Linked DNA regions of Homo sapiens: region 2 is linked to region 1. The links come from fine-mapping of genetic effects on gene expression. Tissue or cell type: whole blood. Region 1 holds a variant in brackets; the other region holds the start of a gene. All regions are shown on one strand. Distances are between the middles of the regions.

What was found. PIP is the estimated chance that this variant, and not a neighbour inherited with it, causes the effect.
Region 2: LINC03053 starts here. The variant in region 1 is fine-mapped to the expression of LINC03053 in whole blood (TOPMed, PIP above 0.99).

Annotation. Positions count from the first base shown.
Region 1 is chrX:39,816,405-39,822,407 of GRCh38, reverse strand. No RefSeq gene overlaps it. Among named protein-coding and RNA genes, the nearest start is that of MIR1587, 18 kb to the left of the region's middle. RefSeq lists enhancers at 3,894-4,811, 4,812-5,727. The variant G/A (reference allele first, on the strand shown) is at 3,475.
Region 2 is chrX:40,006,518-40,012,011 of GRCh38, reverse strand. LINC03053 (long intergenic non-protein coding RNA 3053) reads right to left here and starts at 2,762. Exons shown (of 2, transcript XR_007068218.1): 1 at 2,211-2,762; 2 at 1-1,994. RefSeq lists enhancers at 2,995-3,622, 4,842-5,494.

The DNA of each region.
Region 1 (6,003 bases):
CAGTGCACGAAGGGCCTGCAAAACAGAGGGCACATTTGACCCCTGACCTAGGAGGACTTGTGCATGCTGTCCGGTTTCTGAGCTAAACATTCCAGAGGGCTTCTTGGAAACTGGTGCCCCCAGGGAGTGTGTCTGTGCTCGCAAGTTTCTGTACCTTCAGAAAGCCGGAGGGTCCCAGTTGGAGCCAGTCCGAGATGGAGTGGGCTCAAGAAGGAAAGAACGTGGGGATTTAATTGGACTCAGCGAACCCTTCCCGGACCAGCCGGCGTAAACTCTCGGAGGCTGTCGCCTGTGCCCGGCTCTCCTCCCGGCCTGGGGCGCTTGGCAGAAACGCGGTCACGGAAAAGGGGTGAGGGTGGCAATCCCGGGTCTGCCCTCCCGTACACCTCCCTGCTAACCCACCCTGTCTGAGAGGCCACGGGGACCAGGCTACTGGGCATAGTGTGAGGACAAGAAGGGATGGAGGGCTCGGGACGGCGGGGACACGCGGGGGCAGTGTTGGGGGAGCTGGAGTAAGAGTGTTCCGAGAGGGGAACTCGGGCGCGGGGGTGCGGGAAGGAGCCTGGGGTTGGAGTGTCCGGGGTGGGGGTAGGCCGGAGGAGGGGTGGTGTCTCGGAGTGGCGGGGCTGGGAACTCCCCGGGCGAGGCTGAGGCAGCATGGGGGGCCGGTGGTGGTGGCGGGGATTGGGGCCCCCGAGGCATCTCTGACCACAAAGGGCCGGGGAGCGCGGCCCGGCGGTCTCAGCGAGCCGTATTGATCGAAGGGCGGGCGCAGCGAACGCGCCGAGAGCGGCTCCATCCATTAGGGCCGCTGTTCGCCTCCAATTAGAAAAAAAATCATTACTCAGCAGCCAGCAGCGGCCTGCGCGCCGCCTGGGACCGCCAGCGAACAAGCGAGCCAGCGAGGGAATGGCGGGCCTCCCCCACCCCCGCGCTCCCACCCTCAGCCCCCGGCGCCCCGCCTCCCCCGGCCCTAATGACAACTATTAGAACTGCCTCCCCGCACCCACCGCCCGGCGAGCACAAAAGCGCGAGATTCATTTGGTAATCGGGGTAATTACAGCGGGGCGCGGGGGCGCACGCGGCGATGGCGGGCGCGCCGGCGGAATGCTAAGGGGCCGGGCGCGCCGCCCGCTCCCACCGCCCCGCCCTCCCCGCCCGGCCCCTAGCCCGAGCGGCGCCCGGGGCCGCGTCTCTCCTCGCCTAAACCCTCCCCGCTGCCGCCGCTGTAAGCGGGCTGCCCCGGGGCTCCCGAGGACTGGAGGAGAAGCCCCCCGCCCCCCGCCACGGGTCCTCTCGTCCTAGCCCTTGGCAGCGCGGCCAGCGGCGCTCCGGACAAGATTTGCCACGTCCGGGAGCCGGAGAACCCCTCGGAGGTCCGGCCGCATAATAAATACCGCGTGCAATGTATTCACTCTGCGGCCCCCGGTTAATTTATACGCCCGCTCCAAGCCGTGCGCCCGCCTCGGCGCGCGCCCCGGCCTGTCGTTCCTATTTACAGGCGCGAGGCGCAGTCCCTCGAGAGGGCTTTTTTCTTTTTCTTTCTTTTTTTTCTTTTCTTCTTCTTTTTTTTTTTTTTTGAGAGATTTAGGATGGATGCAACGTGTCATTAAACCTGAAAGGAACTGTTATTTATCAGTAATGATGTTTTCCACAGGCCTTTTTCCTCACCTGCGCGGGCACAGGTACCACCTGGGTGGTGGATGCGGGGCGGGGGTGCCAGGAGGCCTGGGTGGGGGTAAACTGTGTGCGGGCCTAGCCGGAGGCGGCCGGGGCACCGCTGGAGGCCACCTCTCCAGACTCCGGGAACCCGAGGGCCTCTCCTTCACTTGGAGGCACGGTGCTGCACCCCCGTTGGGGGGTTCCCCTTGCAGAGCTGCCTAGAACAGCAATGTGTTAGGAGACGCCTCCGAAGAGCCTCCTCCTCCTCAGCTGGCAAGAAACGCAGACTCTCGGCAGTGCCATTCTTGCAGCAGAAAGGCCCTGTGTGACTCCAGCACTCGGAGCAGCCGCCTTATCTGGGGTGATTTCCCATCTGCCTCCCTGGGCCCAGGATTTCCTTCCTGCACAGAACTTATCTTGTCGGGAAGCAGAGCTGTGCGCTAGAGGCAGGCCCAGCAAATGGAATGCTCGTTCGGTCTTGTGTTCTTAATGACCCATAACAGAGTCCTCAGAGGTGAAAAACAAAACCCTCCACCCCCTTAACCATTTCTGTGCCCATCCTGGTCTGGGAGATTTCTTAATCCTGCTGCGCCGTCACACGGACTCCTCTCTGGATTTTATCCTGCGGCCGCCGGGTCCAACTCAGCCGCACCGGGACTGGGGTGGGGAGGCGGAGCCCTGCAAGGGCTTGAAGTAGGGACTGCAAACCCCTGAAAGAGTGGGCAAAATTCTGGGTAGATGCATTTTTCCGAGGGGAGAGTTCTTAAAGGGATCTGAGACAGTCCCAAAGGTTAAGAACCACCTGCCATCCCTTTGACCTTGTTGAAGTTTGATCTCGGAGCCTAGCTTCATTATCAGAAAGAACGAGAATACCCCAAAGCAGTCGTTGTGATTAAAATAGTGAGATAATGCTTTAATATTTGTAAACTGTACAGGCTTCTTCAAAGATAAATTATTAATGATGCCAAAGATGGCTGTGTGGTTGTGCGTGTGTGCACGTGTGAATGCACGTATTTGTGAGGTGATAGTGCAGGGGAAGTGTCGGGGGAGTCACTGGGATTATATTATTTGTCCTGAGACCTCCCCCACCCTCCGCCCCTGACCATTTCTCTCTTCCTCAGGACCAAGTGGGGTTGATCTGGAATATTGCCCCTCGGTTTTGAGAATCACCAAGGCTGGGTGGGAGAGATGGGCAGCAAGGTCTTCCTGCTGAAGCCCGTCTGGTCCTCAGGAGACCCATGGCCCCCTTGGGCACACAGTAGCCATCTGCACGGAGTAGGTGGCTACCACATCTTTGTGGAATAATGGAATCAATGACTGGATAGCTCAGTGGTCTTGGGCCAGGCCCACATCCCTTCTGTACTTGCAAGTGGAAAAGGACTCTGGACCCTTTCCAACTGCAATGTGTCTGTCTCTGGTGGTGGAGGCCCTTCGGTATCTTTTTTGATTCCATGTCTACCTTCTAGGAGCTCAAAGACTGAAATAACCAGAATCCAGGGTGTCAAGCATCCCCATAGAGATGGGGACTGATGTGGTATAGTTCATTCCCCTCATCCACACACTAAGAAGCTACAACAGAGAAAAGCTTGACTGAGGTCATGAGACCAGGGTTCAGAGTTCCCCTCACTGATACCCCCTTACCCCCACACAAAAGGACAGTGGCAGCCATGCAAGGGCACTGCCCAGACCTCCCTTCAGCGGAAAAGTTTCTGGAAGAAGTGTCATGGTTTGCTAGCCTCTGGCTGTGGCACCTTCGGGATCTGCTGCAGCATTCTTGCTGAGGCCACCCTCCCCAGGCTGTTCCCGCCCGAT[G/A]ACAGAGCATAGCAGGGGGACTAGAGCTGGGTCATTACTGCCTGACACAGGAAGTTTCTGATGGGCAGTCTGTGCTCTGGGGCTCCCCATCGGCCTGGCTGAGGCTTTCTCAGAGCTGCGCTGCCGGCTGAGGCTCTCCCTACCCACCCCTCCTTCCTTCCCCTCTCCTTCTGCAGGGGTCAGAGCTGCCTCCCGGTCTGAAGTCCCCCCCCCCCCTTTATCCTTCTTAAAAATCTCCCCCAATACATCTCTCACACTTACTCTCTCTTGGTGTCCTCTACCTGGAGGACTCAAATTGCCACAGGGACTAACACGTAGACTCCCATGCCCTCCGGTATTTTAGGCGGGACCCTTGTGTGTTCAGGAGCATGTAAAGAGCCAAGGGTGGAGCTAGGAGCCCTCAGCTACTCCTTTACCCCATTCCAGAAGGTTCCAGGCTCTACACACTCCCCTGTACCCATCTAGGGCTAGGTGGCCAGCTGTCACACTCTGGCAGTAATGCTGCTCATGACTTGTATTTATTCTTCAAGTTGCTCCTGGGTATATTAGGGCCCATCTCTGCCCAGGTCCCTTGCCAGCAAAAAGGCTGGTTCTTACTCACCAGCTTGCCCTGTTGCTCTGGGAAGTCAGTCCCACGGCCAGACCGCCCTCTTTTCACACGGCCACTCTGAGCACCAATGTGAGAGGCAAATGCCAGCCCTGCAAATCTGTACATGGAATCAGAGGCTCTCCAGACTCACGTCCAAAGGTGCATGGGCGGGGCGAGCCAGGAGACGGGGGAGCCCTGCTCAGTCACAGACACAGATGACATGAAATCAGATGGAGGATAAAAAGCATCACTGGAAAACAAAGGAACTGCTAGAGTCCGTGCCTGCTCGAGAAAAAGCAGTCATCAGCCCAAAGATGGATGAAGTGGAGGGCTGTTATTTTTAAGGTGGGGGCAGAGGTCATTAGCTTGAAGAATGTGTCATATTTGGCATCGGGAGGGTGGTTATGTGAGGCTGGAAAGCAAAGCCTGGTCCGCTCGCTCTCTGGCCAGGGAGATACTATTCCCTGGGGAAAAAGGACAGGCCCTCAACTAGCAGAGAGTGGCATGGAGGAATGTGTCCCCCAACCTTTCTAGAAGACAATAAATCTGTGAATTCTTCTCATTGGCAGGGCTGAAGGTTCATGGGACTGAGGCCAGCACCCAGTGGTGGCCTGGGCTGTAGAACTTCAGAAACAGCTAGTGCTACCCCTGTAGGCTAATTGTTTTTTCCAGAACCAAACTTTACTTGGCAGCACTAGGCTATAGCTCCATGGGCAGGGGTTTTGGGAACGGTGCCTTTGGTCATAGGGTATCAGGGTTATCTACAAACCCTCCTGTTTCTGGGAAACCAGCCTGAAGTCCTCATGCCCTCTGCAGCCAGAGGCCACTGGGCGCTGTGGTTCTGCCAGCTTTGGGGTGAGCAGAGGCAGAGACAATGGGGGAGAAACTCTATGAGGACAATGCCTGCCCAGCCTGAAACATCGCTAACAGATGGAAGGATGCAAACAGCAGCATGCCAAGCCTTCAGAGAGCTGGGAGCTCTGCCTGTGATTCAGGGAAGCTCTGATTCAGAGCTCTGAGCGCGTTGTCGCCCGGTGTCCTCAGGATGAAAGGCCTGCTTGGGGGGCTCCTCTAGTCCATCCCTCCCGGCTCCACCACCTCAAACTCTGCCTTCCAGCAGCAATTTCTTCCAGTTCTCCGGGCTTTGCGAGGCTTTTGCTGGGGCTGTACCCTCAAGCCTAAAACCCTCTGACTCCTAAAACTATCTGACTCCTACAACTATCTGACTCCTACTCATCCTTTCGCTTTCAGCTTAAGCTCCAGGAAGTATGGGCAACCCCCACAGTAAACAAAGCCAAACGTTTTCTTTATCTGGAGCCTTTACTATGCTAATGTACATTGTGAATCTTCCGGAGGTTGGTGGGTGGGGGGCAGTGGAGAGGCCGCCAATCTTTCCAGAAGTATTTGGCCCCAAGAGGCCTCCTACCCCCACGTCTATTAACCCTCTCCCAGAACGAGGTGAGGAGGAGGAGCTTGGGAAATGCTCCTCCAAGAGAAGCAGAGCGGAGGCAAAACCCCTCTTGTGGGGAGGTACAGTCCCTTCTGCCCTCCTGTACCCTGCGGATAAACTTACCCCCTGGAAGGAGAAACCAGAATAGCAGCCCAATCTCTTCTTAATGCAGCTGCAGGGTCAGATCCAAGTTTGGGGGCCTAAAAGTTACGTGAATTTTGGGGCCTTCTTGAAGAAAAACAGTGCAGAGGTACAAATGATAACTGCTAGGACCCTACCAGGGCCTTGGAAGGGGACTGTGCGAGTCAAGGCCCTGAACTTTAAGCTTTATTAGCCTCGAGGTAAAATCCACACCTGTGCAGAGGCTTAATTCTGGACATAGGTGTAGCTAAGACACATCCCTCTCCACATCACGTTTAGGTCAACTGGACGGTCTTGGATGGCCCTCCTTTGACTCTGGTATATCTCTGCCAGGCTCCGGCTGGCCTGC
Region 2 (5,494 bases), 190 kb before region 1:
GCTGTGTTCTCTAGGGAGATAATGTCGAAGAAAACAGTGAAGGGGTGGGAGTGGAGGGCGCTGGGGAACACAGAGCGTCAGCCTCTCCCATAGTGCCCACGCTTCAAAATGCATAACACCCAGAGGAAGGTGAGACATCCTCATGCCCATTTTAGAGGGTTCAGAGAGGGCAAGGGCCGCAGAAGGTCACACAGACAACAATCGGTTGTGCGAAAAGGGTCTTTAACTCCATTTCTTGGGCTTCCTCACGGGTTTAGACCTCCAGGATTACCCAGGTCTTGGTCTCTCGGGATTCCGGGAAGGGTCTTTCCTGGCGCCTCGAGTGGAGGTCAAGGCCAGCCAGGCGACTGGAAGGCCTCTGGTTGCCAGTCTGCAGTCAAGCATCCTTTTTGGCAGCGGCTCAGTAAGTGGGGTGGTCTGGTTAGGGACTGCAGGAAATTGTCTGAGCTAGATTAAATATTTTACAAAACCTTCGGGGGGCCTACGGTTGACTTGAAGCTGGCAATGTTAAACCAAACAAAAGTTAACGAGTTCTCTCCTGACTTTTTAGGTACAGTTCAGAGAAAACGGTGGGTAGCGCTCTTTAGAGGAAGCAAGTTTAATAGCGTTTCCTCTCATTTTTCTCCGTATCATTCTCTCTGCTGCTTGTAGAGCCTCATAGCCTCTCTGGGGCTGGGGTGGCAGAAAGGCCTCTTCGGGGTCCCTCTTTGAAAGGGCTGCAGCCGACTTGAGCTCCTGCGGCCACTGAATTCCATGCTTCTGACTCCTGCTTGGAGTAAAGTGCAGCCTCACCGGAAGTGCATGGCCCTAGGAACTGCACAGGACACAGTGCAGACACCTGAGGCCTCTTCTGGCCTTCCCCTAGGGCAACCCACGGGGTGGGAGGAGAAAGGCCTACACTTCAGGACTCACGACCTAGTAACAGCCTTTTCCTCGTTTTCTCTCCCTCTTTTGAGTCTTTAGCTGCAAATCCTGCACTGCTTTCTGAGGGTTGTCCTCAGTGTTTCCCTCCCTGAATCGCACACCCTTTTGTCCCTGCCTCCTGGCTTGAGTGTGACTGCTCCCTTGCACGATGCCCACCCCATTCCCATATTCAAGTTGCAGTGTAGAAGCTCTGCAGGCCAGAACTGAACTGCGGCCCTGCGAGAGAAGGAGGCAGCTTGACCTTTGCAGGAAGGGAAGAGAAGGCAGATTCACAGCTCGCAGCGCTGCAGGGAGACACAGAGATGCAGGCGTTGTCACAGCACCAGCAGCTCTAAGGGGAGCCTGTAAGAGGAAACCAGCTCCAGGAGGCGAGGGAGCTTCTGTGCGGAGTGTGTGCCCCAGCGAGATGCACAGGCCGCGCAGTGAGAGAGGAACTGCCTGGGGGAGCTGTGGCTGCTGCCAGCTCAGCGCAGTGTGGGGGTGGGATGGGGGCTCAGAGAGGCTGGGGGGCTAAGATTAGGGCTGCCGTGGAGGATGGGGCCTCTGGAGAAGACAATAACTAAAGGAAGCTGCTCTGAAGAGGCCAGACCACCTGCGTATGGCTCATCAGATGGGGGGCAAGGTCCCAGCAGCTTAGGAAAGTATGCCCTAGGAAAGATAGATTTGCCAAAGGACACAGAGACTGGAGCTTGGTTGGGTTTTTACACATTAATTTTTGGGGGTGGCATCTTTGAGACAGGACCTTCCTAGGGAAAAATAGAGAGCCCTATACTTCTAAATCCCAGGGGATCCCAGGCGCAATGAGCTACTCAGCGGGCAGCCCAGGCCCACCTAGGGTTTGTGTCCGGGCAAGGGGCTCCAGAGCGTGCAGCCCACATAGGTCCCTAACCAGGCTTTGGGGGAGGGGGTGGGTAGTGAAGGGGTGTGCCCGCTGTATATAGAGGCAGCTGCCATTTGAGGGTGGAGGTGGGGAAGGTGATGCCTCAGCTTCGGCGCTGGAAACCATTGTTTGAGTCTGCACCCAGCGCTTCTCCAGCAGGGCTAATTCTCCACGTGTCCAATTTTCGTGTCTGAAAAAAAACAGCAGCACAGAAACAAAACCATATGACAGGACTGGGCTGCAAACCTTGAAGAATCGAGAGGGTGGCGGAGGTTGCGGCTGGGAAGGGGGAGGGTAAATGTGTGTGTGTGTGTGTGTGTGTGTGTGTGTGTGCCTGTGTGTGTGTGTTGGGGGCGGTGGGGTGGCGCACAACTCAAAGTTTCGGCTATTTCCTACCCGATCTCACCTCCCGGCGTGCTCATCTGATGCAGTTCCAACTCCCTCAAACGATTCCGCAGCCCCAGCGCTTGCGGGAGTGTGGAATTACAGTCTGGAAGAAGCGAGGCGCTGCCGCGAGAGGCGACGCACCGAACCCGGGAGTGCGGAAGCGCAGGCCGGCAGCAGCGCGACCCCTGGGCAGCCTCTGGGCCGCGGTCAGCCCCTGCGGCTCCGTCCTCCTGCCGGTCCCGAGCGGAGAGATGGGTCAACGCAAACCCTCAGCAGGATGGGGGGAGGGGAAAGAAGGGAGACAAGGCTTTTCCCAGAAAGCGGAGGGGAACTCGCTTCCCATCTCCGAGGCGCGATGATGCCCCCATCCCCCGCGCCCCGACCTCCCTGAGATTCGTTTCCTTAAAAAATAGCCAAAGGCCAAACATTTAGCTACGGGTTGAGTCTTCTTCCCACCCCCACCCGGTGCCCTCTCTGAGTTCTCTAAACCCACGAGGCGCTTTAGGCCTGGCGTCCCCCGCCCTCCCCCGCTTCCGCCTGTGCACGAGCCAGTGGCGGTCACTTCTGCGACTCTTTGGAGGCCGACGGCCAGGAGCTTTGTTCTCCTGGGGCTTCCTGCCCCTCCCCCCTCCAAGTCATCCCGGTTTCCACACTTTATCTGCGCCCCCCCTTTGACGTCCGCGCACACAAACAACCCGGGCCTATAATCTCATTAGCATAGGTCTCGGTCTGGGTGACCGCGAGGCTCCCTGCGCGCCCGCGCGCAGCGCTCTGTTTCGCTGCAAGCCGGAGTTTCCACCATGCATGCACCCGGGGCGGGGGGCGGGGACGTTCCGGGTGACAGTGTTGGCTTTGGGGCAGGCCGGGAAGAGGAGGCCGCCCGGGGCAGCGGGAGCCGCGGGAGGAAGGCCCCTCCCAGCGCCCAGTTGCCTTGGTCCCCGGAGCAGATGGCAACTTTGTCTCCTGGTGTGCGCGCAGCGACTTTCAACACATTGAAAAAGCAGTGCTCAGGCTGTCGGGGAAGCCTCGCTGACATTCAGAACCGATTAAAGACCCGAGACGGTGCCAGGCGCAGTGGAGAGTTATGAATTAATCATGGGGGTTACCGATATCTGAGGCTCCCCAGGGCAGTCCTTCTATTATAAGCAGCCCCCACTGCCCACTCCTGACCCGCTCCCCCCTCCCCCGCCGCCGCAAAGGGGTAGTCGCGGCGTCTTTTGCACTGCCCCAATTAACAGCCACGCGGTAATGTGAAAAGTGTTTGCCCTGCCACCCTCAGTGCGGTCTCAGGCCGGGGCGCTGGGCCTGCCAGACGCTCGCGGAGCAGCTCAGTCTTTGGGATAGGCCCGGAATGAGCTCTGTGCTCTGACCCGGGTATGGGGTGGAGTGATGCTCGTTCTCTGCCTCTGTGGCCCAGGTTCAGCTCCCTTCACCACCGTAGAAGGAGGCCCTAGATAGTGGGCGACGTCGGGGACCACCTACAACCTGGGTGCTTGTTTTGGGTCCCCAGAGCAGCTACAGGCTCGTGGTTTCGCGTTGTGGCTCTGGCGATGTTCCAGATATGGAAAAACGAGGTTCGTGTGTGCCGTGGAACTCCGCAAAGTCCCTGGGCCTCCTAGGAGGAACCCCCATGTCTGGAGTCACCCTAAATGACCCGCACCCCTGGGAATCGAGGCACACATCTCGACCACCGAACTTGCCGTTCTGCGTATTGTTAAATCACGCACACCGTTCTAATCTCCCCTATTTATTTCCCAGGCCTGCCTGGCCACAGATTTCTGCAAGACGGAGCAGGCTTCGGGTTCCTCCTGCTTCCAGAGGGGCCATAAAAAACAGATGGTCTCATTAGGAACAATTTATGCATATATATTTCGAAGAGTTCAGCAGAGCCGGCGTAGGTTTGCAGCCCCTGCGTCAGGCAAGAGCAAAATATCACCACTTGCAAATGTTTCCAGTTTGCAAAATAATGGCCTATCCAAAGTAGCTAAGCAACGAATTACTCAAACACTAGAAGGTTAGATGCCAATATTATCACATTCGTCCTGTTCCTTAAACCGTCCTCCTCCGCGGTCTTTGGATTTCGGATGGAGGCTCCTGGGCCTCACACCCCTACGCCCGCGGCTTCCTTTCATGACTATTTCCAATCTCCAAGTCAAATCACTTATTAATTATAGAGGCAACTCGAGCAAACCCAATTACCCGTAGGCAGCCCTTCCCAGATGGGAAGTCTGTCTCGCACGGCTCCCACGGTGGCCCAGTTTCTTCTGGGGAGGTTTCTTTTGCGTCCGATTTCTTTTTGTCAGTGGTCCGCCAGCGGCCCTGAATGTTTCCTCTGCCTGATTCTTCTTCCTAGAGGCAACTCCATTTTCTTACCCTGTTCCCTTTCCTTCTTCCAAGGAGACATCCCCGCCCCTTAGGAGCCGCTGCCTTCGGGCTAAATTTACCGCCGCGCCAAGTTTAAGCCTTAGGCGTTGCAGATCTGGCGTAGGAATGGCGGAAGCTGTAGACAGAGCCCTATTCATTTGCAAAGGCGGAAGGCAGAGTGATTCGCTCAGTTGGCTGCCCCTCGTCTCGTCTGTCCTCCCTTCAGACGTAGCCGGTGGCTTAGGTTCACCTCGGTTTGTGGGATGTGTCCTAGGACTCCGCGAGGCTTACCCCTGGTGGGAAAAAGCCTACTTCACTTTTAATGTCCTCACAGTTCTGGCCATATGGTAATAATAATGCTAACCACCAGGACTTTGTGCTAAGCATTTGACATATAACTATATCTTCTTTAAACCTCGTAGCCACACTTATACGAATATCCCTCCCATTTTGTAGATAAAGAAACTGAGGTTAAGAAACTGGCCTCAAATCACACAGTTAGTTGAAAATGAAGCCCTTAATCCAAAGCCTGAGTTTGCATTCACAGCGCCAAAGACACCTTCCAGAAGAGTACAAACCATAGGGGGCGGTTGGGGGCCTGTTTGCTTGCAGCAAAGGACGCCTGGGAGCGCAAAGGCCTCGGAGGTTGCAGTCAGGAGGTCTAGGCGTCGAGCTGCGAATAGCAAAGCACGCCGGCGGGACTCCAGGGAAACAGGCACACCTGGGATTTGGGGCGCTAGGGGAGCTGTGCTGGCTAGGGGCAGAGTTTTGGGGTGAAGCGCGGCTGCTAGAGTCTTGCAGCGCGTGGAGCTGGGTACTGCCACCCTTTCGCTACCGCAAAAGTCGCTTCCTCGGCTGTGGTGCCCTTGGGACGCGCTGTGGGGTGCGGTGGGCTCGCCTTGGCGATCTTGAGGGTGTGCAGGGTGCGGGGAGCCTCGG